Regions from separate parts of the Homo sapiens genome. Here region 1 is linked to region 2. Evidence: fine-mapped expression QTL. A gene starts in region 2. The other region holds a variant in brackets. All regions are shown on one strand. Distances are from middle to middle. Region 1 holds the start of GCSIR (GPR55 cis regulatory suppressor of immune response RNA). Region 2 holds the start of FBXO36 (F-box protein 36).

Region 1 (5,372 bases), 970 kb before region 2:
CAAATAGAGAGAACATTTCTTTTTTTTTTTCTTTTTTAGAGACAGTTTCACTCTGTCACCCAGGGTGGAGTGCAGTGGTGAGATCATGGCTCACTGCAGCCTCGAGCTCCCAGGCTCAAGCAGTCTTCCCAAGTAGCCAGGACTACAGGTACATATCACCATGCCCAGCTGATTTTTAAATTTTTTTGTACAGACAAAAAATTTAAATGGCCTGTGTTTCCCAGGCTGTTCTTGAACTCCTGGCCTCAAGTGATCCTCGTGCCTCGGCCTCCCAAACTGCTGGGATTACAGGGGGGAGCCACAGTGCCAGCCAGAGAGAACATTTCTAAGGAGAGAATGATCACAGAGTCCGGCGCACCACCACTCTGCCTTATGCCTAGTGAGAGGGGCTTCACTGAGACTGCTGGGAGACCTGGACATGGGGCCTGGGAGTAATTTGGAAGGGAGCCCTGTGGACTGGGTGGGGGCCAAGCCCCTGGGGAAGCAAGTAGTGAGAGGCTGTGGCTGGAGCTGCCTGCTTGTTGCTTGGAGCACAGGACAAGAAGAGGTGTGTGCCAGCAAATAACCCATTCTGCTGGATTCTGTAGCATCAAAGGGTGTGTGAATGTTTCAGAAGCTGGTCTGAGTTACTTAGATCCAGTCCAAGAAAATGAAGCTGAGGGAGAGTTTGCCTGCATTGAGGTGCAGCTAGTGGTGAGGACGGGGACCAGGGACTCTCATGGAGCATCCACCTGAGGGAGGGTGAACTGGTGATGCTAGTGCTACAGTTTGGATCAATGTTGGAGGTGGGGCCTAATGGGAGGTGTTCTGGTCATAGGTTGGAACCCTCATGAATAGATTATTGCCCTCCTACAGAGGCAAGTGAGTTTCACTCCGTTAGTTCCCACGAGAGCTGGTTGTTAAAAAGAACCTTTGCCTCCCGTGTCTCTCTTGCTTCCTCTCTCTCCACATGATCTCTGCGTGTGATCTCACGCCAGCTCTGTTCGCCTTCTGCCACGAGTGGAAGCAGCCCGAGGCTTTCACTAGATGCCCAGTCTTCCAGCCAGCAGAATCGTGAACCAAATAAGCCCGTTTTCCTTATAAATTCCCCAGCCTCAGGTGTTCCTTTACAGCAACACACACCGACTAAGACAACTAGTGACCTCTCCTGCTCCGACGCCCGACGCCAAGCCCTCACGCTACTGTCCCAAACTTGGAGGCGCCGAGGAGCCTAGTGAAGGGGAGGAAAAGTAGAAGCATGAGGCAGGGGCATGGAGGAGAAACCCGCCAAGCTCCCCACGCGCCTTGTAGGCTTCCCATGTGGGCAGGTCTGGGATGGGGCAAGGGAGTGGTTTTAACTTCAAATGCCATCTGGAGTTTCAACTGTTTTGATAGTTAGATGTTGTAATTACTGAAATTGGATTTGTGTGAATAAAAGTTACCCAAGGGATTTTTATTATCTTGGATGGACCAGAAAAACCAAGAAACCTACCTTCAATTTCATCCAAGGTCAGAGGAGAACCCAACCCACCGACCAGGCTTGAAAAGGTAGTGGGAGAAAGAATTGTTTTCGGATTACACCCCACAAGGCTCCCGTGTTCAATAAAACTGTGACACAAACACTGGGAACAATTCTGGTGAATTTAGGAAGAAAGGAATTGATTGACGGGACACTGGGTGGCTCAGAGTCACTGGGTGGGCTGGAGAAACCACTTCAGCAATTGGGAGACCACAAAGGGAACCGCGGGCTCCAGAATGTGGAGATGATGCCACCACCTTCCTGATGCCCACGAGACTCTGTGTTGCTGTTGTCCCCTCTACCAGGATGCATTTTTCACTGTCCCCCTTCCTGAGTCACTTGTCCCTATGGCATGGTCTGGGTGTGATATGGTATGGCTCTTTGTCCCCACCCAAATCTCATCTCACATTGTAATCCCCGCATCAAGGGAGGAGCCTGGTGGGAGGTGATTGGATCGGGGGGCAGTTTCTCCCATGAGTCGTCACTCATGAGTTCTGGTTGTTTGATAAGTGTCTGGCACTTCCCCGCCGTGCTCTCTCTCTCTCTCCTGCCACATGTGAGACTAACACGTGCCTTGCTTCCCCTTCGCCTTCGGCCGCGATGGTAAGTTTCCAGAGGCCTCCCCAGCCACGTGGAACCGTGAGTCAATTAAACCTCTTTCCTTTCTAAATTACCCAGTCTCAGGTAGAATCTTCATTGCAGTGTGAACATGGACTAATACAGAGAGGAAACATCTGATTGGCTGAGCCTGGTCACATGCTTGACTCCAGCCCCAAGGGGCACTGGGAAAAACAGATTCAGCTTAACAACAGGGATATGTCCTGAGAAATGCATTGTCAGGCAGTTTCATTGTGTGAACATCGTAGGGTGCACTTACACAAACCCGCATGGCATAGCCTACTGCACACCTGGGCT[A/TA]TACATGTTAGCCTACATGGCATAGCCTACTGCACACCTGGGCTATACGGGTTATCCTGTTGCTCCTAGGCCACAAGCCTGTGCAGCATGTTTCTGTACTGAATACTGTAGGCAATCGCAACACAATGGTGTATCTAAACATAGAAAAATATCGTTCAAAATATGGTAGGAAAAATAAAAATATGGTACACCTGTGTAAGGCGCTTACCATGAATGGAGCTTGCAGGACTGGAGGTTGCTCTGGGTGAGTCAGTGAGTGGTTGGTGAGTGAATGGGAAGGCCTGGGACATTACCGACCACTGCTGTAGACTTTGTAAACGCTGTACATTTAGGCTACACCACATTTACGGAAGATTTTTTCTTTCCTCAATAGTAATGTAACCTTAGCTTACTGTACCTTTTTTTTCCTTTATAAACTTTTCAATTTTTAAAAACCTTTGGACTTTTCTATAATAATACTTAGCATAAAACACCAACACATAGAGCTTCACAAAGTATTTTCTTTGTACCCTTAGTCTTTTGTTCTTTTTTTTTTTTTTTGAGGCAGAGTCTCCCTCTTGTCACCCAAGCTGGAGTGCAATGGTGTGTCTCGGCTCACTGCAACATCCGCCTCCTGGGTTCAAGCTATTCTCCTCCCTCAGCCCCCCAAGTAGCTGGGATTACAGGTGCGCACCACCACGCCCAGCTAATTTTTGTGTTTTTAGTAGAGACGGGGCTTCACCATGTCGGCCAGGCTGATCTCGAATTTCTGACCTCAGGTGATCCGCCTGCCTCGGCCTCCCAAAGTGCTGGGATTACACCACGCCCAGTCCCCCTTTTTTTCTATTAAAAATTTTTTTTTTAACTTTTAAACTTTTTAGTTAAAAACTAGACACTAACACACACATGAGCCTAGGCCTACATAGGGTCAGGACCATCAGTATCACCATCTCCACCTCCACATCCTGTCCCACTGGAAGGACTTCAGAGGCAATGCATGCATGGAGCTGTCACCTCCTATGATGACAATGCCTTCTTCTGGAAACCTCCTGAAGGATCTGCTGAGTCTGTTTACAGTTAACTTTTTTTTTAATAACTAAAAAGAGTACACTCTTATTAGCAATTAAAAACACAGTGTAGTAAATACGTAAACCAGCAACATAGTTGTTTATTATTATTAAGTATTAAGTACTACACATAATTGTATGGGCTATACTTTTATATGACTGGCAGTGCGGTAGGTTTGTTTACAGCAGCATCAACACAAACACATGAGTGATGTGTTGCACTCTGACCTTACAATGGCTGTGACGTCACTAGGCAATAGGAATTTTTCAGCTCCATTGTAATTTTACGGGACCACTGTGGTATGTGCAGTCATTGTTGCCTGAAACGTCGTTATGTGGTGCATGGCTGCATAATAGTAGGTGGCTGGTGTCTCCCATCAAAACTGTTTTGGAGGGGCAAATCCTGAATACAGGAACGTGATTCAGATGATTGGCCCCTGGTGGGGAAGGGAGGGCAAAAATTAATATCTTTGAAAAGGGCAAACTGAAGTGATGACCGAGTTTACCTAGAAAATATCAAGATTACACATTCTGCCACTAGACTAAGGGAAGGTTTGAAAACTAGATTATTACACAAAACACACTATTATAGAAAAATAAAGATACCAATAAAGATACTTTGGACACCTGAGTTTGTGGCTATGAAATTCATACTCACCCCAGAGATAACGCGAGACACGAACAAAAGTAATCAATGAAAAACTGCTGGCATACTGACTGCTTGAACACTGTGGGCACTCGCTCAGTGTGGGACAAGCGTGCTGGCTAAAGTCCCTCCCCTTCCCTCCCTCCCCTCCCTGTCCTCCCCACCTCCCCCTGCCTCCCACCCCCACCCCCCACCCCATTACCTCACTGCTGCCAGCCTTCCCTTTCCCATCAGTCCTCCGTTAGGCGCAGAGCCCTGGCTCCTGCGGGGCCAGGCTGGACGTGGCTTCCAGTGACAGGGCCCTTTGTCTCACAGGTGGGAGGCTGGCGTGCGACCTTCATCGGCTCCCACGTCTCTGCCTCCGTGCTCTGGCAGCTGGAGTGGGTGCAGCATGCAGCAAGGATACGGAGATGCCATGGTGGGCCACCGTGACTGCCGACCCTTCTAGGACTGCACCCCCGTCAGTCCTGGCTGCCCCAGGCCCTAGACTCAAAGCCTCTCTTCCAGTCCCCACAGGGAACAGGGCCCCAGGAGGAGAGCAGGCTGCCCCCGTGCCCCGGGCCCTCAGAGGGTGAATTTGGACCTTTCCTGTTGTATTTTGCCCACTCTCTGACATTCCTCTTCCCCACCTTCAAAGCTCAAATGGTTCCCCAGGAAGCCTGCACTAGTCACTCTGATCTCTCCCTCCTCTGAACCCTGTGCTGCCAGGTCACATGCAAAACACGTGTCATTAAAGCTGGAAAAGACCTTCAGAATGACTTGGTCCAAACTCCCCATTTTACAGAAGGGCAAGTTGGAGCCCAGAGATGATGTTAGCCCACCACAGCTGTACAGATGCACCAGGGGACAATGGCAGAGTCCAGATCCCCGGGACCTCGGGACACAGGACTCCCTCCTTACTTCGGGGACACTGCATGTGCTGCCTTGGGTGGTCTGCTGTGCCTCCCCATGAGGGCACGTCCCATGGAAATGGGCTCTTTTTCTTTCCCAGGCAGAGAGCTGGAGGTGCCCAGGGCCCCACACCTGACATGGCCAGGGTGGGCAGGGACCAGTCCATCATCATTCCCTAAGCAGTTATTGGAGCTCTGAGGTCCCTGATAAGTAACACTCCAGCACCAGTGGGTGGTAACTCCTTCAGGCAGAAGGCTGAGCACGGTTTCCATGGAGACCGCCCAGGCTCTGGTTTCCAAGACAACACTTGCACGAGGTTACAGAGCTTCCTATTTATGTCAACTTAACATTTCCAACTGCTCTATTCTTCTGGCCA
Region 2 (5,372 bases):
TCTATCTTATAAAACATATTTTAATGCTAGTCTTTTAGTACTTATTTATGTCAGGCCACCTCTTACTGGATGTTTGGTTTCCTGTGCTGAGACTCAGAAAAATTGTCTTGTGGTTAGAAAATAGCATATTCTCAAGGCAGTTGACTGAAAAGTATATTTTTTTGGCATGCCATTTTTTACAACAAATTTTACTTTAAAAAGAGGGTGAATTAATTAGCTTGGAGATTAACTCTCACTGGTAGAAGTGTAGTGGATTTATTCAGCATGCTTAAAAAAGAAAATGGATCAGAATTTAGGATTTTATATATATGTAACTGACAGAACCTGAGATAAAGGAGAGTTTTTCACTTGCAAAAAATAAAAAATAAATAAATAAATAATAAAAATAAAGAAAGAAAAAGAAAAATTAAGAACACTGAAGGGATGGTGGGAAAGATTTCTTAAAAAAGAGTAGTTAGGGCCGGGCGCGGTGGCTCACGCCTGTAATGCCAGGAGATAGAGACCATCCTGGCTAACACGGTGAAACCCCATCTCAACTAAAAATACAAAAAATTAGCCGGGCGTGGTGGCGGGCGCCTGTAATCCCAGCTACTGGGGAGGCTGAGGTAGGAGAATGGTGTGAACCCAGGAGGCGGAGCTTGCAGTGAGCTGAGATTGAGCCACTGCACTCCAGCCTGGGCGACAGTGCGAGACGCTGCCTCAAAGAAAAAAAAAAAAAGAGTAGTTAGAGGAAGGCATGCGCCTAAGTTAGACTTGAGAGCAAAGTCTGAAGAACACCAACAACAGAATTATTCTTTAGGAAGCCGAATGCCAGGGAGCACTCCTAAGGATAATTTACTAAAATAAAAAGGTAACAAGATACTCAGCCTGGTGAGGCTTACAAATGAGAGAAATGAAGCATACTTGTAAAATACCAGACCTTCAGGGGAAAGAAAATGCAAAAAAAGACAAATTTTTAAAGGCTGTAAAAATTAAAACATTCTAACTTACTTGAGGTAGATAAAAATAGAAAATCATGTAAGATTAGAACAGATTATATTTTTGACCACTCATGTTAGGAGGTGAAGAAATGTTAGGATCATAAATCTTAAAGCCAGCCAGGCTCGGTGGCTCAAGTCTATAATCCTAGCAATTTGGGAGGCCGAGGCAGCTGGATCACCTGAGGTCAGGAGTTGGAGACCACTCTGGCCAAAATGGCGAAACCCCGTCTCTATTAAAAATACAAAAATTAGCTGGGTGTGGTGGCGCACGCCTGTAATCCCAGTTACTCGGGGGGCTGAGGCAGGAGAATCGCTTGAACCCAGGAGATGCGGAGGTTGCAGTGAGCTGAGATCGCGCCACTGCACTCCAGCCTGGGCAACAGAGGGAGACTCCCTCTCGATAAATAAACAAACAAATCTTAAAACAAATGGAAAAATCAATAATCCGTTTAAAAAATGTACAAGGCCGGGCGCGGTGGCTCACGCCTGTAATCCCAGCACTTTGGGAGGCCGAGGCAGGCGGATCACGAGATCAAGAGATCGAGACCATCCTGGCCAACATGGTGAAACGAGGTCGCAGTGAGCCGAGATCGCGCCACTGCACTCCAGCCTGGCGACAGAGCGAGACTCCGTCTCAAAAAAAAAAAAAAAAAAAAAAAACAACACCAAAAAAAAAGTACAGAAAAGGATACCTTTCAGTATTTCATACATCACTAAATGTGCAAAACCCCCTAAGAACAGTTTAATTAAAAATTTGAGTCTGACCCTGGGCCCACTGCCTATGAATTAGCCCTGCTCCGCAAGGAGCAGTACTGTTTTAAAAAAAATTTTTTTTGGACAGGCTGATTTTACATTTGTAATATTTCTAAATCTTAAATTAAAAAATATATATTAACATTTATATTTTAAAAGATGCTTTCAAAAATATAAAAAAATTAACTCATTACCTATTTTGTTTAAGGGCTCCTGGAAAAACTGAGGGAATGATCAATATGCACACCAAAACAAATATATACAAACTTCTAAATTTCATTTTATAGGAATAGTATCTATTGAAAGGGCAGGGTGCATGAATAACTCAGTGACAGGCGTAAACTCAGCCAGGATTAGAAACGTCTTCCCAATGGAGGCCCCGCTCAAGTTGAGAATTTCATGGACACAGTAAATCATCCAAAAGCCCACCTTCAATAACCAAAGTAGGCATAAAAATAGGCCGATGGTTACTTTGGAGATAATATAATCCTCGGTCTTATTGTTGTGGAGCAGATGTCATTATGGGTGGGGCTGAAGCGCAGAGCAGCTGAAACATTTTTATACCACCACCCGCACACTTTCAATGGGATAGAAGGGACTCCAAAAGGTAAGAGCTCCCAATCGTCAGTTGCTACTAGAAATAACTAAGTTTTGATGTGGCCGTGGCACGCGTAAAGGCCACAAAGAGATTTATAAAATTCTCCATGATTAATTCCTATCCTGGAAAAGAGGCAATCTCCTTTTCCCCTCCCTAGCCGGCTCCTCCTTGGGACACTTGGCTGAGTCGTTCTTTCCCTCCTTCTCACGCTGAGGTGAGGCCGCACGCAAGCCGGAGACGCCCGTTTTCCTCTTCGCGCGGAGGAAACTCTACGGGTAAGAAGCCGGGGTGGCGGGAAAGGAGCACGCGGCACCGCGGGGAGGCAGAGAAGGCTTGCCAGGGACTAGCCGGGCTCGGGGAGAGCAGGGACACGCGGGCCGTCGGACCGAGGAGGCCGAGGTGACGAGGAAAATCTCCCGGCGCGGAGCCGGGACTGGGCGCTTCCGGCGGGCTACGGTTGCTCTTGGCCTAGCACAGCCTGCGTCCCGGGCCCCAACCGGGCCAGGTAGGGAGTTAGGAGAGAGGGTAAACCGCGGCTCGCACTTGCCTGAGACCGGGTGACCAGTAACTGGTAATAGTCTTTGCTAGGCGGCGGGCCTTGTCCTACAGTTTCAAAGAGAGTCTCCGGCAGCCACGACGCCATCTTGGGACGCCACCGCCGTCGCTAAGACAACCAGGAAGGGGCGGGGCTTGGTTGGGGTCAAGGGGCCAAAACCCTAGTTTAAATTGAACCACGCTTATGAGCTGGCAGAAGGATTTCTAACTTGGGGCGATCGTCCCCTCTTCCAAGGGTCTTAGGGAACCCTGATCCGTGAAATTTCCAGCTCCAGGTCCCGGGTGACCCGAGGGGGAATTAGTTCCTGCTACCACGGAGGGGAGGGGGTGACCCCGGCGGAGGGATACCAAGTAGATCTCCACAGTCCCCTTCCTGGTCCCTCGAAGGGATCGGGCGGAGATCGGAGGCTGCTGAGAGAGTCGAGCCGGGAGGCGTGGGAGGGAGGGGCGATGTGATGGGCCGCCAGTAGGCAGCGGTGCCGGTCCCGCGGACGAGCCCGTAACCGGAGCCCGAGGACAAAGTAGTTCCCCGAGGGTGTCAGAGCAGGCGGGGAGGGAGGCGGCACGGGCGGAGGCGCACGCCGGGCGCGGTGCTGCGGCTCAGCTGATAATTGAAGGAACCCGGAGCCGCCGCCGCCGCGCCGCTGGGGGGGGTGGGGGGAGCTAGTGGAAGTTACTGCCGCGCCACCGAGTCCGGACCGGAGACTTTGGGGCCTAACTAGGTAATTGGGGCGCAGCTCTGGGCGGCGGGGGCAAGCCTTGGGGGAGGGGGCCAGCTGAGGGGTTGGGGGGGCGGGGGGAGGAGCTGGAACAGAAAGTCCCAGGAAGCCCGGTTGTGTCATCGCCGCGATTCGGCCCCCGCTTGGCCTGCTCCCGGCGCCGGCGGCGGCGGGGCCGCGGAAGGACCGGGCCGGGGGTGGACGGGAGAGACGCTCGAGGGCGGCCGCGGCCGGAGGGACCGGGGCCTGGCGGGAGGTAGGGGTCGCTGGGTCCCTCCTCCGGCTTCCCGCAATGAGGAGGGCCCTTCACAGAACCGGGGTAAGGCTTGCGGGTGTTGGGGAGCTCGGCGGGGACCAAGGGGGGCCGGAAGTGGGCTTTGGAGCTTGGAGGGTGTCTGGGAAGAGAGAAAGTGGGGGGCCGGAAGTGCAGGTGGGGGGTGTGAAGACGGCAAGGGTTCCCCGGAAATGGGACGAGGGGCCCGGAAATCGGGAAAGGGGAGGCTCCGGGGCCGTGGACGGCCCGGAAATGGAAACTAGGAAGCAGCTCCAGTGACAACAGTTGTGGGAAGCGAGGGTCAGAGAAGGGAGAGGCCAGAGAGACTTTAGACCGCAGTAAGGGGTTTCCTGCCCAGGGGGACGGCGAGGGACGGTTGAGGGAGGGCGAGCCCGGAGACGGGGTCTGCGCGGGGCAGTTTTTTAAGCCGTGGGAAGTTGAGGCTGAGGGAGGATGATGACGAGGGGGGCATGCAGGGAGGCCTAAAGAAGCCGAGAAACTTGACTGAGAGGAATAGAGTATCCTTTTAAATAGATCAGAATGGAAATTGGTGGTAGGTGGGTTTAACTAGGACTTGGGGGAGGGAGGTGGGCCAATTGTCACCCCAATCGTATTAGCATTCAGAGCGAGTCAGGCGATTAATTTATTTATATGTGGATTACATAAAACCTATTATTTACAACGTTTGTCCATCAGTTCAGCCCCTCTCCTTCCTTCTCCATAGTGAGTGGGTTTCTAGTACAGGAACAAGTTAGAGGGGAGTTCGAATAACGAAGGTAGTAAAACCTCAAATCCTGTCTTCCTCGGCGTCTCTCCCTTCCTCAGAATAAGAAATCCTTCATTTCCTAGACGGAAAAATGCGGAAAAACATAAAAACACATGTAAATCGGGGGGAAATCACACTTTGAACTCCTGGTGGGGGACAGGAGGGAATTGGTTACCTTACGTGGTGAGGAGATAACGGAAGGGGCAGCTTCCAAACCCTTAAGACAAATGTTGTGTTTTTTTGATAATGCTGTTTTACTTTGGGGGAGGTTTAGCCTAAGCATCGAGTCTGGTGGTGGGCATAGTTTAATTGCTTCTTTAGTTAATTGGGGGAGGGAATGTGTTTGTGTGTAAAGGTTGGGCCGGTGCGGGGGGAGGCGGGTACGGTTAATAGCGCAGTGAATCCGTTCTAAGTGGACGTCTAACTGCTCTCCTGCTGTCTCCTTTCCTAGTCGCGGTCCTCGATCTTGCCTGGGCTGCCAGATCACCCGATCTCCGGGCTTTACTCCGTTTTGTAGGCCCTTTAGTGATGTGTTTAACTTTATGTTCCTCTCGAGAGTCTCATTAGGTATTTTTGGCATTTCATTTTTTAAAGACCTAGCAAGTTGAGTCTCAGAGTCTCCTCTTTAAAAACAAAACAAAAAATACGGGGTAGAAAGTTGAAAGAGCTATTGAGTGGGGTAAAACGACGCTCAGAACAAAGGTCCTAGTTGTGTTAGAAAAAAAGG

What was found.
Region 1: its variant is fine-mapped to the expression of FBXO36 in visceral fat (GTEx, PIP 0.92).

What each region holds. Positions count from the first base shown.
Region 1 is chr2:230,885,905-230,891,276 of GRCh38, reverse strand. GCSIR (GPR55 cis regulatory suppressor of immune response RNA) reads right to left here and starts at 4,731. Exons shown (of 4, transcript NR_038238.1): 1 at 4,308-4,731. RefSeq lists an enhancer at 5,299-5,368. The variant A/TA (reference allele first, on the strand shown) is at 2,414.
Region 2 is chr2:229,920,116-229,925,487 of GRCh38, reverse strand. FBXO36 (F-box protein 36) reads right to left here and starts at 2,985. Exons shown (of 4, transcript NM_174899.5): 1 at 2,879-2,985. The coding sequence starts at 2,974. It overlaps TRIP12 (thyroid hormone receptor interactor 12), which reads left to right and starts at 3,479. Exons shown (of 42, transcript NM_001348323.3): 1 at 3,479-3,608. RefSeq lists enhancers at 2,707-2,766, 3,423-3,923, 3,924-4,424, 5,062-5,161 and a silencer at 3,597-3,986.